2 separate regions of the Homo sapiens genome follow, and region 1 is linked to region 2. The links come from fine-mapping of genetic effects on gene expression. Tissue or cell type: tibial nerve. Region 2 holds a variant in brackets; the other region holds the start of a gene. All regions are shown on one strand. Distances are from middle to middle.

Region 1 (8,103 bases), 53 kb after region 2:
GACTCCGTCTTTAAAAAAAAAATGTGGAGTTAAAGAATGTGTATAATGTGCACACAGGGACATAGAATGTGAACTGATGGACATTGGAGACTTTGGAGCGGCGAGGGGTAGGGGGGCGGTCGGGGCATGGGGCGAGGGGAGGGATGAGAAATTACTTAATGGGTACAATGTACATTATTTGGGTGATGTTACACTAGAAGCCCAGACTTCACACTAAGCAATATATCCATGTATCAAAACTGCACTTGCACCCTCTAAATTTATACCAAAAAAAAAAAAGACAGGAGGGATTGATCTTAAGTCTGGAGGGGTATGCCTTGGAAGCCACAGGCAGGCGTGCACTTGGGCCTAGGTGTGCTAGAACCAGGGACTCAAAGCACCTTCAGGAGCCTCCATCTCTCCCCGCTGCTGCCCTCTGCATAACTGCCTCCTTTCTGTGAGCTCCCTGCAGCCTAGCCCTGTCTGGTTTCCCTTCCCAGGCCAAGAGGTAGAGCAGCCACCCGCTGCCACTCCTGTCAAGGACCAGCTGCTTTTGGGGCAGGGTGGGTGGTTCTAAAGATGACAGGTACTGCCGGTTCTGATTGTGGCAGAGGGAATGTTGGGTTGCAGGGAAGGGGAGAGGGGAACAGCCTGGAGATCCAGGCAGTGGTCCCCACGGAGGTGTGGACACAGAGCTGCAGGGGAAGGCCTCTCTCACCAGAACCCCTTAGTCTCCAAGATAATCAGAGGAAGCAAACTAATTGTTTTGGATCACCTATTAGATGCCAGGCACCATGCTAATCATCTTTCTTGTGATTTCCTTCCATTTTCACACATTAAAAAAAAAAAAAGACGAGAAAACAGGCCCAAAAGAGCTACATTACTTGCCCAAGGTTGCAGAGCTAGAAGTAGAGAGGCTGGAATTCAGCCCATGGATCATTCCACTCTACCACACTGTCCCTGGAACCTGGGTCAGAGCCACAGTCAGTATCAGTATCACTGAAAGTGCCTGTTATGACCTGGCCAGCCCAGTATCATCACAGGTGACTGTGGAAATGTCCCTGGTTCCAGAAAAACAGGATTTTCAAACATGGCTCATTGTATCCGCTCACTTGGATTCAGCTCAGCCCAAGATAAATATGGCCAGTATTGGTGGCTGATGAGCAGAGCCCCTTGACGGCAGAGGCAGGACCAGGTGAAGAGCCAGGCAACCTGGTCTCCTGAGATAGGTCAGCAGGTGGTGAGTCAGGGGGCTATAAACAGCCTGTGGCCCCAGCCAGCACTGCCCAGATACTCAGCTGATGAAACCCCTTGTAACCCCCTGTGTGCCCCTGCCTGGCTTGGGGAGGAGCATGTCAGCGCTCCTCGGGGAGGGGGCCCTACTTGGCAGGCCGGGCCCAGCATTGTGCACGGTCTGTTCCAGCCTGGCTGGCCAGGCCCAGGGCCTGGGCTCATGGGCTATATTGAGGGCTGAGTCACCAGCCCGCGCCTGGGTCAGGCTGAGTGTCACTGGCTGCTGGGGCCTGAGTCAGGCCCCGATTTATCCTGGAGAGCAACAGGCTCAGGTTTCTGAGGACGGTTGCGGGGGGTGACGGGAATCATCCTTTGGCACTCTGTACCCTCCTCTCCTCTGCCAACCATTCACTTGATCCCCTGGGACCCGCACACTGACCTCCCCTGGAGCGAGCTCTTGAGTCAGAGGGAAAGCAAGGGAAGCTACGCTGGGAGTTCCTTCTCCCCTCCCTGGCTTCCTCCGGCCTCTCCACCTGAACAGAGGCGCTCAGCTGGCTGGGGGACCTCAGATAATGCCTGCAAAACAGGACTGTGGACCATTAGGGTCTGTAAAGGGGCTGTCAGCTCCGAGCTACCTCACCTTAACCCTTTCTCCTCCCCAGCAGCTCAAAGAGGAATGCATCCTTTCTCAGATCTGTGTCTCAGTTTACTCACCAGGGATTCAGAGGCAGCACTGCTGAACCCTGAGCCCTTGGCACATCAGGTTGGCTGTCAGAAGTCGGCCTTTGTACATACACAGTTCCCTTGTGAGGCCCAGCTGCGTGTCCTAGGAGCGGGGCCTCTCTCCACAGCAGAGCTCAGCCTCTCAAGTGTATGGACAGCACGGGTGCCTGATGGGTGGATTTAGCCATGAGTTGAAGGTGGCTTGGGGAGAATGAGAGTTCTAGAGATAGGGAGAAGGGGTTGCCAATAGGAGAGTGGAATTCCTGAGCACCTCGTCACAGGCAGCCGACAGAACATGAGCCGCAGGGCCCAGGCTATTTATACCTCGCCTGTCACTATCAGGGTCCCCACAGCTCCCCCCACCTCCAGCCACACACAGCAGGTCCTTTTGCTCTTTCTGGTCCCTTCTCTACTCCTCCCCCTCCCTACCTAAGGACCAGGCAATTTCATTCATAGACCCCTGTCATCATAAGCATTGCCCCCACAGAACCCTGACACTTTTTCCTCAGCTCCGTAACAGGGGGTGCCCTCATTGGCCCTTGGGGGAAAGAGCCCCCAAAGATGCTCACTATCCCTTCTTTTACACCAGGTCTAGGGGTAGAAGAGGAATTAGATATAATGATTCATCTAAAAGGGCCCAGAACCTTCCCTGGCTTAAAGAAACTTCTCAGGCTCAGATATGGCCTCCTAGCCAGCTCAGCTAGACTTACTAGGTCTAGAAGGATGGGAAAGCTGAAGACACATGGCTTGAAAAAGGGGGAACTGGGAGATATGGCTGCACGTATGTTACAAAGTTGCAGAATGGATCCTCTCCTTATAGAAATACATTCTCTAGGCCCAGCACGGTGGCTCACGCCTGTAATCCCAGCACTTTGGGAGGCTGAGGCGTGCAGATCACCTGAGGTCGGGAGTTCGAGACCAGCCTGACCAACATGGAGAAACCCCGTTTCTACTAAAAATACAAAATTAGCTGGGCGTGGTGGTGCATGCCTGTAATCCCAGCTATTTGGGAGGCTAAGGCAGGAGAATTGCTTGAACCTGGGAGACAGAGGTTGCGGTGAGCAGAGATCATGCCATTGCACTCCAGCCTGGGTAACAAGAGCAAAACTCCATCTCAAAAAAAAAAAAAAAAAAAAAAGAAAAAAGAAAAAGAAATACGTTCTCTAGCTCTTTCTCCTCACCCCAGGCCAGAGTCTGTTTGGGTGCCTCGGTTTCCCTGCTGTTCTATTCCCCAGGCCTGCAGCCTTTGGCTTGCCCTGAGTGCAGCTTTGCCTGGGCATCCCAGCTGGCTCCCTTAGGCTCTCCCTGACCACTCTGCCCCTGGTCCTGCCTACCCACCTGGTCACATTTCCCCCTGGCTGCTCTGGCTGGGGCTCTCCCTGTTTCTGCCTGGCTGACCCACCCTTTCCCTGGCAGGATCTGCCCTGTGGCCCAAATGGGCATGTTGCCCAGGGGGCTCCCTGGCACTATGGGGGAAGAGTCTCTCCTTCCCCTCTTATCATCTCAGTTGAGTCAGACTTGGGGGAGGGGGATACACAGTGTGAGTCACTGGGTACCCTTTTCCTGAGCTCAGCTTCATACCGAGGCGATGAGGCCAAACGGGCTGGTGACAGGGACACTGAGTCAGGGGCAGGGGCCCCGGTCTTACTCCTGGGCCTCTGGATTTGGGCCCTACATGAGGCTTTTCTATCTGTAAAGTCAAGCAATGGCTGGGAGGCACACACAACCCCCCGCCCCCCCGCAGGCTTCTCCTTCATTGGCCCGGGCAAGGTCCCTGCTTCCTCTCAGGCCGTCTCTGCACAAGCACACACACTTCCCTTCCCTGTCCACAGGTGGACAATGCCCTGGGCTAGGAGCCAGCCCTCGCAGGCCCTGTCAACAGCCTGCCACCAACTAGTCTAGAAAATTCTGTGAACACCAGATCAGTGGGTTTTGCCCTAATCACTGGCCTCAGTTTCCCCATTTACCTCTTCAGCCCGTGCGGGGTGTGGAGGGAGCATATTTCATTCCTGACAGTTTGGTGTGTTGGGTGTGGATGGAGAACTGTCGGCCCTCCCCGCCACCTTCCAGCGCGGCGGCACCGGGGGCCCAGGGGGTGGGCGCCCTCAACCCCGTCCCGCCGCCCGGGCGGCGCGGGGGAGGGGCGGCGGGGGCGGGGCGTCCTGTGCGGCGCGGCCCCCACCCGCGGGCCGGGCGGCATTCCTGGGAGGCCGGCGCTCTGACGTGGACCCGGGGGCCGCGGGCGCGGCGGGGGGGCGGCGGTCCGGGGGCTTCTTAAACCCCCCGCCCCGGCCCAGCCCGCCCTTCCCGAGCACCGCTCCGGCCCTGGAGGGAGAGAGAGCCAGAGAGCGGCCGAGCGCCTAGGAGGCCCGCCGAGCCTCGCCGAGCCCCGCCAGCCCCGGCGCGAGAGAAGTTGGAGAGGAGAGCAGCGCAGCGCAGCGAGTCCCGTGGTCGCGCCCCAACAGCGCCCGACAGCCCCCGATAGCCCAAACCGCGGCCCTAGCCCCGGCCGCACCCCCAGCCCGCGCCAGCATGATGAACAACAGCGGCTACTCAGACGCCGGCCTCGGCCTGGGCGATGAGACAGACGAGATGCCGTCCACGGAGAAGGACCTGGCGGAGGACGCGCCGTGGAAGAAGATCCAGCAGAACACATTCACGCGCTGGTGCAATGAGCACCTCAAGTGCGTGGGCAAGCGCCTGACCGACCTGCAGCGCGACCTCAGCGACGGGCTCCGGCTCATCGCGCTGCTCGAGGTGCTCAGCCAGAAGCGCATGTACCGCAAGTTCCATCCGCGCCCCAACTTCCGCCAAATGAAGCTGGAGAACGTGTCCGTGGCCCTCGAGTTCCTCGAGCGCGAGCACATCAAGCTCGTGTCCATAGGTCAGTGCCGGGGGCGAGGGCACGGGCGCTGCGGGGATAGGGTCGTCCCATGGGGCAGGGGCACAGGTGCGGGGTGGGCGCGCGGGGAGCTGAGAGACAGGGCGGAGGGCACCCCCCGGTATAGAGAGAAGACCCTGGCCCCGGCCCTCCCACCCATCGACAAGGGCCATGGGCACTGCCTGCACACCCCTCTGGGGACAGCGAGCACTCCCTGGGTGCCCCGGGGAGTCCAGGCCTTAGGGTTTGCGAGCCCTCCAGCTGCCGCCTCCCCATGCACATTCCCACCTCCCGCCTCGGCTCACCGTTCCCTTTCCTTCCATCGGGCAACCCTAGCCCACACTCGGGAGGACAGAACCAGTGCCTGTCACTGATTCCTGGGGGCATCTCCCCGCCCCCAACAAAACAAGTGGCTTCCCAGCTTCACAGCCCCTCCGCGGGCTGGGAGAGGGCTGAAGACAGGTCCCCAACCACTGCCCGCGTCTGCGGGCTCTGGGGCCGAGGGGAGCTGGCGCGGGAGGCCCTCTTCGTGCATGTGCTCAGCAGCTGGGTTCAGGCCCGGGGGCCAGGACAGGCAGGGCCCAGCCTCAGAAACCTAAAAAGGCACTGAGCGAGCGCGGGGAGACTTAACCCCTGTCTGTCCTCCTCCTGCTTCAGCCTGCGGTGGAGGGGGCTTCCGCAAGTCCAGGCCCTGCCCCAGCCCACCCCCTACCGCGGGATTGGCTGCAGCTAACGGTCTGGGCTGCGGGGAGGGAGGGAAAGGCCTGTGGAAGGGAGGAAGTCTTTGAGTGTAACCAGATTTGGAAGGTGTGTAGTGCAGGGTGGGGGCGGGGAGGCACTCTAGTCTTGGGAGCAGAGACGCCAAGGGTGGGCTTGGAGTGGCAGGAGGCTGTCCTGCCCTCAGAGTCCTGCAGTCATCCCTGAGGCTGGGGGCCTGGGGAAGATCCCCCCGCCCACCCCTGTGGAGAGCTCTTAAGAACCCTGCTGGGATTTGCAGGACGAGGTCCTTGGACGGTGCACCCCACGGCCCCAGGAGGGGAGTTTCATGTGGGGCCAGGTGGGCCCCACACAGGATGTTCCCTGAGATTTCTCCAGATGACTTGATGTCTGTCAGCCCCACTCTCCCTTGGGGCCATCTCTAGGCCTCCTGATATAGCAGCTGAGGTCAGCCCAGGGCCCTTTGCCCCGTCCAGTCCCCTCCCTAGCCCTTACCCCCTCCTGCCCCAATACTGCCCCCCCACCCCACCCGCCTGCCCTGTCCTGGAAATAGCCCTGCCTCCGTGACACAGCAGATGTCTCTGAGCTTTCCAGAAGGACAAGGCTGAGGGCAGGGGGTGGGGGAGGGAGCCTGGAGTGTGTAGTGAGACTGAGGGCTACGTGATGGAGGCTGAGGGGTCAGAGAGGAGTCAGTCCTGGGCCGGCATCCTCAGCAGGCTGGGTTTTGAAAGGCAGGACTGACTGTACCAGGTGGGGTCTGGGGGAAGAGCCGGAGGCTTCGGCAAGACATATAGGAAACCGCTCAGCCTTCCCCTCCCCTCCAGTCTGCGGGGGCTCTCGGCCCCTCTCCAGGCCTCGTCCTTCCTGAGCACACCTCTCCCCTCCCCCGTGGCGGTGCCTGGCTCCAGCCCCCTTGGCTCAGCAGAGGAGGGGCTGGCTCAGAGCAGAGGGGAAGAAGCAAAAGCTGGTTTGAGGGTGGGAGGGAAGCTCCCTGGTTCCCGCTGGGAGGAAGGGGAGGCAGTCCCCATTTGGGCCAAGTGGCTCACTGGCGCTGATGAGATAAGCTGTCAGCAATTCAGCTGCCGGCCCCAGGCTGAGGCTGGAGGGGAGGGGACACCGGCAGCGACCAGCTGGGGCGCCCCACCATGAGGAGGTTCAAAGGGGCTGCCCACGAGGCAGGGGCATCCTGCTTCTGCTAGCTCCCCTACTCCATTTAGTGGTGGAAAGGGGCTATCCATGGGGCCACCTTCTGAGTATTGTCTCAGCACCGAAATCGAGCATCTGGGCACCTCAGGGGGTGTCAGAAAGACTCCCCACTTCTCTTTCCAGGAGGGAAGTCAGGGTCTGGAGTAGCAGCTGGGATCCAAGCCCACCTGAAGAAGGGGCACTGAGCCCAGGTTAAAGGAGCTGTGCCCTTCATATCCTCACCACCTTGTCCTGGCCCCCCGTTGCCCCTCGTTCCCTCCGAACAAAGAGGCCTATGAGGCAGCTCTGTCTCGCAGCTGTTCCCCAGTTGCTATTCCTTCTCCTGGAGCCAACAACCAAGGGAGGGGCGGGAGGGGGCAGCAGCTGTCCCAGCACCTCCCTAGGCCCAGCCCTCTCCTCCCCCTCCATTTGAGGCCTGGGGTGGCCTCGGGAACTAGCTGTCTGGCTCCTCCCACTCCTTTGGGGGTATCCCTAGGCAGATGGAGAAGTGGCTTGGTGAGCCCTGGTGGCGCTGAGCTCCTCTCCTCTGCCTGGCCTCCGAGAGGGAGGAGGGAGAGGGAGGTCATTGCTTCCAGAGTGGGACTTGGGGCCCCACTGCCCTTCTCCTGCCCCAAGCCTGGACCACTTGCTGTCTGGCCCAGGGCCAGTTGCTGGGGAGAAACTTCCCTCTCCAGCAAATATGAATGACCACCCTCCCCATATACACACCGCCCCCCCCAACCCCTGCAGCCTCAAGGCTTCCTGCCCAGGGGTCTGGCTCCAGTTTGCAAGAAGTACTTCTGGGCGTGTGAGCTTTGGAGGCTGTCGGGGTTGTGAGAGGCTGGGGGCACTGGGGCATCCAGACTGTGTGAAAGTGTTGGAGCCTGTGTGTTTGAGAGAAAGCACCGGGAGGCAGGGAGTGAGTGTGTCATGGAATCTGAAAGCTGCCAAACCATTGTGCTGCAGTGGAGCCAGGGGAAGGGGGTGGGCTGGGGAGCTGCTGGGGAAGGAAGGATGAATCAGTGACAGGGTGGGGGAGCCCAGGCGGCCAGAGCCCCAGCCAGAGGGACAGGGAGACTGAGGCACCCCTCCCGGGGCAGGTGGGAGTGGGGCAGGGGATGCCCTGGATTTCCCAGGCTCTCGGTCTCCTAACACTTTCCCCAAGACCTGGGGAAGGGTGGAGGGGAGAAGATGTGTAAGGGGAAGGCTCCACTCCACCCTCTCCCATCTCTCGGGCAACATCAGTAAACAAGACTGTCTTCCACCCCCTTCCAGCCTCCTGAAAGCAGTGCTTTGGGAAGCTGATAGATTTCAGAACTTCATTGCCCTTTACAAGTAAGCTGAATTCCAAAGATCTATCTACATGCTAGGCCACCCCAGGCTTC
Region 2 (8,103 bases):
AAAACTATCTAGATTCCAGTCTAGAACTACTCCTGGGTCTACGGTAATCCTAAACTGGTCAAGTCTGAGACCTCACTGTTGGTAAATTCACAAACCATCCTGCTTCATAAAAGCACTGTCAGCAGAGGCCCCTCCATTACTAGCAGGTGCTCCCAGCTGGAAAGGACTGCCAATTCTCTTCTATCCAGGGAGGTTTCAAATTAGTTTTGAGTCTACCTCTGGGATTGAGGAAACAATACCATCTGAAAGTAGGGTTTTTGCCACTTAGGGTTTGGTGTTTATTAGCTCGGATTTCAGATGGGATAGGAAATCCCCCAGTACCTTCAGATGATAAGATATTTTAGAGATTTTTGCATGTGGTATGATTTCTGTGCTTCACACATGCTCGTGCAGGCTAAAAGTTGGAAGGGAAATGATTAAGAAATTATTAAATGCAAGGACTGAAAATTGAGAGGAATCTGAGTTTTTATTTTTATTTTTTTAATTTTATTTAAGTTCCAGGATACATGTGCAGGATGTGCAGGTTTGTTACATAGGTAAACGTGTGCCATGGTGGTTTGCTGCACGAGTTTTTCAATAAAATGCTTTCATTCATCCTGTTCTTTGGAGCAACTTCATTTTCCTGACTCAAGTTCTTTCCTCCGGGGTTCTATTTTCTCGTCTTGATAACCGTGCCTTCCTCCCTGTGCTTACCAAAGGCTTCCCAACCTACTCGGGGGTTTTGTGGCTTCCCTCGTCTACTAGAAACCTGGGTAGAGTCCAGGGTGCTCTGAGTTAAAAGTCAATGGTGAGAAAAGAACCAGGGTCTTCTGGACCATAGGAATGTGAATAAAGAGCTTTACCTGCTTATTCATGAAGCAGTAGATGATGGGATTGTAGATGCAAGCACTCTTGGAGAAGAATGAAGGAATGGTGACAAGCCGTAAGTCCAGCCCATGGTTACGGTTGTTGACCATGTACATGGCGAAGGCCGCGTAGGGCACGTAGCAGACACAGAAGGATCCTACCATCACAACCACCATGCGGCTCACCTCCCGTTCAGCCTTCTGGGTCGTAGCTGACTCCTGCTGCTGAGCTGCAACCTGGGGTGGAGCACGGAAAGCATCACATCTCTCTTTTTCCTGGCCCTCTGGATGCTTTTTTTTTTTTTTTTTAATTTTTAATTTTTAATTTTCTTTTTGAGACCGAGTCTCGCTCTGTTGCCCAGGCTGGAGTTGCAGTGGTGCAGTCTCGGCTCACTGAACCTCCACCTCCCGGGTTCAAGTGATTCTTTTGTCTCAGCCTCCTGAGTAGCTGGGGTTACAAGCACACACCACCATGCCCAGCTAATTTTCGCATTTTAGCATTTTGCCATGTAGGCCAGGCTGGTCTGGAACTATTGACCTCAGGTGATCCGTCTGCTTCGGCCTCCCAAAGTGCTGGGATTATAGGCGTGAGCCACTGCGCCCGGTCTCTGGATGCTTTTCTGTGGGATGGGGGAGGGGGCATCCACTCTGATTGCCTCTTTTCTGTCCCATCTCCTGGCCTAGTTCCTTTGGATCTCCATCATTCTCCCTCCTCCTACTTCCTTTGCTGCTTTTAGATACCCTCTCTGGCTATGGACATTTCCAGGCATCTTATGTTTCAGAGCACTCTTCCTTCTCATGTGGAGCCCCGAACCCCTTCTTCCCTGACTATCAAATGCCACTCACAGCTTTCAGGGCCCTCAGCAGCTGAGTGTAGGAGAAGCAGATGAGGGAGAGAGGCACAATGAAGCAGAAGATGAAGAGGAACCACGTATAGGACTCGCTGCGGTATTTGGTGCCCACGGTGTACCAGTCAGGGCCACAGGAACACTGCAGGCCCTCAGGGATGAACCTGCAAAGGACCAAACACTTGCTCACTGGACTCTCCACAAGAGTGCAGTGGGAGCTGAGATGCCTGGATTGTGTTCTCCACTTAGAACCCACGGAATGCCCTAAGGCTTCAAGCAGGGGGGTTTTCTGTCCTGACTGGGAGAAGCTACAGCAATTCCAACTGCAGAGTAAACGTTAGCACTTGTCTCCCACTGCCCTTTCGCCTCATATTGCAACTCTTTAAAAGTAGAGGTCAAAGACTAAATAGTTATACCCAAGCTCTCTTTCCACCCACATCAACCTGAGCTCCTAGTTAACTCAGCACCACTGCCCTGCACTCTCACCGGCTCCAGCCAAAGAAGGGTGGGATGGAGACGCCAATACCAATGGTCCAGGTAGCCAGGACCACCGTCAGTGCATGCTTGGAGCTGAAGCGGAAGTTGCCGAAGGGCTTACAGATGACAATGTAGCGCTCAAAGGCCAGGAAGGCCAGTGACCATCCTGTAACCAGACCTGTGGTGAAATGTGAGGATAATGGGCTAGACAGAGCCCCACCCAGCCTGGCTGGCAGAGTGGCAAACAGATCGGGTGGAGCAAGCACAGAGAGACAGGGCTGGACTGACATTTGGAGTGAAGACTCAAACATCCTATTTTAGCCAAACTTCTAGTCTGGGTTGCTTTGTACCCCAGTATTTTAAAAAGCACCAGACTCATTTCCCCCAGACTCCTCTTTAGGAACCCCCTCCAGTGGAGTAGCAACCTTTGCCTTCCCCTAACCCCTTTTTCCCCTGCAGTACCTGCTACAGTGCCCAGGAAGCCCTCCAAAGCACAAACATGGCGACCGAAGACGAAGTATCCGTTACAGCTGGCGACGAAGACAGGGAAGACAGAGAAGATGCAGAGGAGGAAGCCTCCGAAGGACACGTTGACCAGAATGTAGTTGAGGGGCTGCCGCAACTTTTTGTAGCGCAGTGTGGCCACCAGCACCATGGCATTGAGTGGGAACCCTATAAGGAAGACAGTGCCCATGAAAGCTGCCTGGAGGTAGAAGGCCCAGACAGGGGCAATGTGGTACTGAGGCCCATCCCACGGCCCCACTGAAGAGATATTTTTGAACAGATAAAACTCTTCCTCCGACATTTTTCTCATGGATGCCCCACACCCCCCTCTGAGTCCTCTTATAGGTGATCCTCCCACCCCACAAAACCCCTCCTCTAAAAACACTTGGGCTCTGTGAATGATCAATACTAATCCTAAACCTCCCAAGGACAAAGTTTGGGATTAGAAATCCCTAAACCACTACCTAAACCTTTTGTGGCCCCAAAGCCGATTGTGTTCTTCAGAGGATAAGAGATTGGGCTCAAATAATCTGGATATGCAATGCTGGGTGCTGGGATGAACAGAAGTGGACTCCCTGAGGTCTGGGAGGTGCTGACCCATATTCACTGAAGATGCTTCCACTTTTTTGTTCTTTTAATGGGGCTATAGAAAGGGCACGCCTCTTATTTTGGCTTCTGGCACAACTGTATCAGTTAAGTTTTCCTCAACTCATCTGCCCCTTTGTGGAAGGTGCCCATCTTAAGTCTGCTGAGAGGCTAGGAACCAGCCCTGGGCTGCAGGAAAGGGCTGGGAGTGGGGAGTGCCCTGGAAGCACATCAGTAAACAGCCTTGATGGAACAGGACTTAGGCAACTTGACAATGCCTAGAGGTCTAGGGCATCCCTGAGCCAGGCTGCCTCCATTTCTTTGTGTTGAATCTACTCAAAGAGTGTGCCTTTCCTACTCAGACCTCCAGCCAGGGAGGTGGGTCTGTTCACTGTCCTTACGCCATGTTCATGCCTACCCCTACCCTTAGCTCAACAAGTCGCCACAGTCTTCCTCCTGTCTGTTCATTGAAGTCTTATCTAGCCCTCACAGCCTACCTCACAAACACCTCTTCTGTGCAGCCCACCCCAGTGACACCAACTCTGCTTTAAGTTCCACCTGCACTTGTACTCAGTACTACACTTTAGGCTTTATGAATGAATCTTTTCCACCTCAGCAGATCATAAATATATAGATGAGTTGGCCGGGCGTGGTGGCTCAAGCCTGTAATCCCAGCACTTTGGGAGGCTGAGATGGGTGGATCACAAGGTCAGGAGATCGAGACCATCCTGGCTAACGGTGAAACCCCGTCTCTACTAAAAATACAAAAAATTAGCTGGGTGTGGTGGTGGGCGCCTGTAGTCCCAGCTACTTGGGAGGCTGAGGCAGGAGAATGGCGTGAACCCGGGAGGCGGAGCCTGCAGTGAGCCGAGATCACGCCACTGCACTCCAGCCTGTGGGACAGAGCGAGACTATATATATAGA[T/G]GAGTTAAAAGTGACACACTTTAGGTATAAGTAAGTTTAAAAGTGAAAGGATGGTCCAGTAATGGCAGAATAGTTTATTAGATGAATGCCCCCTTAGGCAAAAAAATTGTAAACTGGACACAATATGAAAAACAACTTTTTGAAAACACCTAAAGTATCCAAAGCAGGCAGAAACTGAAAGGAACTCAACTCTTCAATGAAAAGAACCATCTACATTGTTGTTTTTTTTTTTCCCTGAGTGTACTCCCGAGTATAAATGGCACAGGATAGCTAGAACTTGAGCAGAAAGCCCCAGCCTTTTTTGGCTTGAAGAGTCAGAGGACAGAGGACAGGAGACAGAGGACAGTTTGGGACTCCAGAACAGCTGAAGGTGGATTTCCTGGAATGAAAGAAGCCACAGAAGGCAAAGTCTTTAAATCTGCATATAAACTCCCCTCAAATCATAGGCTGACTGCTGAACTGTGGATGGAGGAATTTCCAAGAGCCCAGTAAAAGACAACCACTGGAGGTCTGAAAGAGCTAAGCAGATTTTGACTGTTACCCACTGTAGCAGAGAAAGAGTTTGAATTTGAATCCCAAGTCAGAGGGTCTGGGTAAACACTTAGGGCTTTCTACTTGAAACTCCCAAAAGGCCACACCATAGAGCTAAAATCTATATCCCAGGACTAAATATTTGTTCTGAGAGTAAGGTCAAAGCCAAAGCTGACTCATACTAGCAAAAGATAAAACCAAGCCTCAGCGGGTTCAAGGTGATCAACTAGTAAGTTAATTGCTTATTAGAACAAAAATCAACACCCCTCAATGGAAGATAACCCAGTTTCTAAAGTTCACTATCTACAATGTCTAATATACAATGAAAAATTAAAAGGCGTGTGAAAGAAAAAAAAAACCCACAGGAAAATATGAGTCATAGCCAAAAGAAAAAGCAAGCAATAGAAACAGAACCTGAGATGACCCAAGAAGTTGGCACCAGCAGGAAAAACTTCAAACAGCGATATAAATATATTCAAGAACTGGAAGGAAAAAAATGATCATCGTGAGTTAATGGATCTCAGCAGAAGAATGGGAAAAATAAAATAGCCAAATGGAAATTCCAGAACTGAAAACTACAACATGTCAAATGAAGAATTTACTAGATGGCTGAACAGCAGATTGGACAGCAGAAGAAAGGATCAGTGAACTTACAGATAGATCAATAACAAAAAGATATCTGGAAAATCCCCCAAACACTTATGAATAAGCAATATACATCTAAATATCCTGTGAGTCAAAAGAGAAATCATAAGGAAAAACTGAAAGAATTTCAGCTGAATAACAACAAAAAAGTATTAGAAATTGAAGGAGTCAGCTAAAGCAGTACTTAGAGAAAAATTTATAGCTTTAAGTATTTATACTAGACAATAAATGTTTAAAATTTAAACTTTCACCTTGAGAAGCTGAAAGGGTGAATCAAATCTAAAATAAATAGGGGCAGATACTAAAAAGCAGAGCAGAAAACATTGAAATTAAAAATGAATAAAGAATGGAGAAAAATCAATGAAACCTGAAGCAAAACAAAATAGTTCTCTCCTGTCTCCAGCATCTCCTCAGTAGGATCTGAGCCAATCTCAGGTCACTGCAACCTCCATCTCCTGGGTTCAAGTGATTCTCTTGCCTCAGTCTCCCATGTAGCTGGGATTACAGGTCTGTGCCACCATGCCCAGCTAATTTTTGCATTTTTAGTAGAGACAGGGTTTCACCATTTTGGCCAGGCTGTTCTCAAACTCCTGACCTCAGGTGATCTGACCACCTCGGCCTCCCGAAGTGCTGGGATTACAGGCATGAGCCACTGTGCCCAGCTGACTTAATTATTTCCGAAAGACCGCCACTCTCATGTGCATGCGCACACATGCACATCCCACACAAACACTCGGCCGCAGGTGGGAGTCCTGGTGGAGGTTACTGGGGAGAGCCAGCTAAGGGTCCAGTCAGATTGCCTGAGTCATGGGGGGAACAGGGTGGGAGGGCACTGTCTGGGAAGGTGTGAGGACAGTATTAGGAGGGGCCAAAGATGTGGCCACCTAGCCTTGTACAGATGAGCAGAGCTGCTCATCCGTTGCCCTGGGCAGGACTTCAGGACCAGGGCCAGAGGTCACCTTAAGGTGCCTATCCCTGAGCAGGGCACATGGACTGTGTGTGAGCCTGGCCTGCGTGGAACAAGCCAGCCTCCACTGTCCGCTGGGCTCTGCTGAGGTGCCCACCTCTGCAAACATTTCTGATGGGAGGCTAAATGGCGAGGGTGCAAGACACCCCGGGCCCTTTTACATCCAGTGTACAAGGCTAGGTGGCCACATCTTTGGCCCCTCCTAATACTGTCCTCACGCCTTCCCAGACAGTGCCCTCCCACCCTGTTCCCCCAACAGCAGAGGGAGACAATGGGCCCAAGCTGGAGGCAACCCAATCCCTGAGGGGCTCAGACCAAAAAGAGCCTCACCCAAGCGCAAAGTCTTACCGGTGCTCAAGCCATGGACAAAAATTCTCCAAAGTCATGGAGGCCACGGAGTAGGAGGAGGCAAGCTTCTGAGGAAGGGGCATGGGGTAAAGGAGGAAGAGAAAATAGAAAAACTGGAGGCAGACTGGGCACGGTGGCTCACACCTGTAATCCCACCACTTTTGGAGGCCAAGGTGGGCAGATCACTTGAGGTCAGGTGTTCACCAACCTGGCCAACATGGTGAAACCCTGTCTCTACCAAAAAATACAAAAATTTGCTGGGCATGGTGGCGCACTCCTGTATAGTCCCAGCTATTTGGGAGGCTGAGGTAGGAGAATCGCTTGAACCCAGGAGGCAGAGGTTGCGGTGAGCTGAGATTGTGCTGCTGCCCTCCAGCCTGGGCAACAGAGCGGGACTGTGTCTCAAAACCAAAAAACAAAATAAAATAAAAAATAAAAACTAGAGGCATCTTAAGTGCATTTAGTTATACAGTGCTCTTCCCAGGCTGAAAATCACCTTATTAATTTAGAACATGTTAATACACTAAGGCTTTACAGAAGATCACATGAAATACACTTAGACCAGGATTTCTCAACGTTGGCACTATTGACATTGCAGATAATTCTTTGTCTGGGGGCTGTCCTGTGCATTGTAGGATGTTGAACAGTGTCCCTCTCCTCTAGATGCCAAAATCAACACTACCAGCCCAGTCATGATAACCAAAAATGTCTCCCGACATTGTCAAATGCCTCCTGAGAGACAAAACCCTTCCCCACTCCCCTCCCCTCCAGCTGAGATCCAACCATTGATTTAGATTTAGACTTACAAATGCTCAGAACCCAATATAATACAATCAAGTGAAAATTTGTTTTTCCATATATATATGTGTGTGGCCGCATATATATATGGCCAGGCGCAGTGGCTCACGCCTGTAATCCCAGCACTTTGGGAGGCCGAGGCAGGTGGATTACCTGAGGTCAGGAGTTCAAGACCAGCCTGGCCAACATAGTGAAACCCCGTCTCTACTAAAAATACAAAAATTAGCTGGGCATGGTGACACATGCCTGTAATCCAAGCTACTGAAAGGCTGAGGCAGGAGAATTGCTTGAGCCCAGGAGACGGAGGTTGCAGTGAGCCGAGATCTCACCACTGCACTCCAGCCTGGCGGACAGAGTGAGACTCTATCTCAAAAAAAAAAAAAAAAAAAAAAAGGAAGAAGAATATTCAGAGAAAAAGAAGTTTCCTTTCCACCCAGCCTCCCAACTACTCAGTTACCTTCTCAGAGGCAACCAGTGGTAGCTTCTTGCTGTTTTTTATATATATAGGAGGTGACAGTGAGCTTGAGATGATGTGTGTGACAATGTTGTCTGTTAAATACTAACCCATAAGGCTCTCCAGACAAGTGATAAGGGAAGAACTGACATGCTCTTGTGAAAATGAGGACTCAGG

Alleles and levels. Positions count from the first base shown, and alleles are read on the strand shown. Sizes are in standard deviations (SD) of each study's normalised expression.
For the expression in tibial nerve of the gene that starts at base 4,236 in region 1, G is the low allele of the variant in region 2 and T is the other (moderate effect, 0.52 SD a copy in GTEx).

What was found. PIP is the estimated chance that this variant, and not a neighbour inherited with it, causes the effect.
Region 1: FLNC starts here. The variant in region 2 is fine-mapped to the expression of FLNC in tibial nerve (GTEx, PIP above 0.99). The same link has a PIP of 0.9 or more in fibroblasts, ovary, subcutaneous fat, testis, thyroid and tibial artery.

What each region holds. Positions count from the first base shown.
Region 1 is chr7:128,826,171-128,834,273 of GRCh38, forward strand. It overlaps FLNC (filamin C), which reads left to right and starts at 4,236. Exons shown (of 48, transcript NM_001458.5): 1 at 4,236-4,819. The coding sequence starts at 4,468. RefSeq lists a silencer at 4,292-4,453 and an enhancer at 7,302-7,945.
Region 2 is chr7:128,772,807-128,780,909 of GRCh38, forward strand. It overlaps CALU (calumenin), which reads left to right. Exons shown (of 7, transcript NM_001219.5): 7 at 1-594. OPN1SW (opsin 1, short wave sensitive) reads right to left here and starts at 2,988. Exons shown (of 5, transcript NM_001385125.1): 1 at 2,633-2,988; 2 at 2,180-2,348; 3 at 1,692-1,857; 4 at 843-1,082. The coding sequence starts at 2,975. RefSeq lists cis regulatory regions at 2,974-3,541, 2,982-3,976, 2,985-8,103, 2,985-6,784, 2,985-4,084 and 1 more. The variant T/G (reference allele first, on the strand shown) is at 4,184.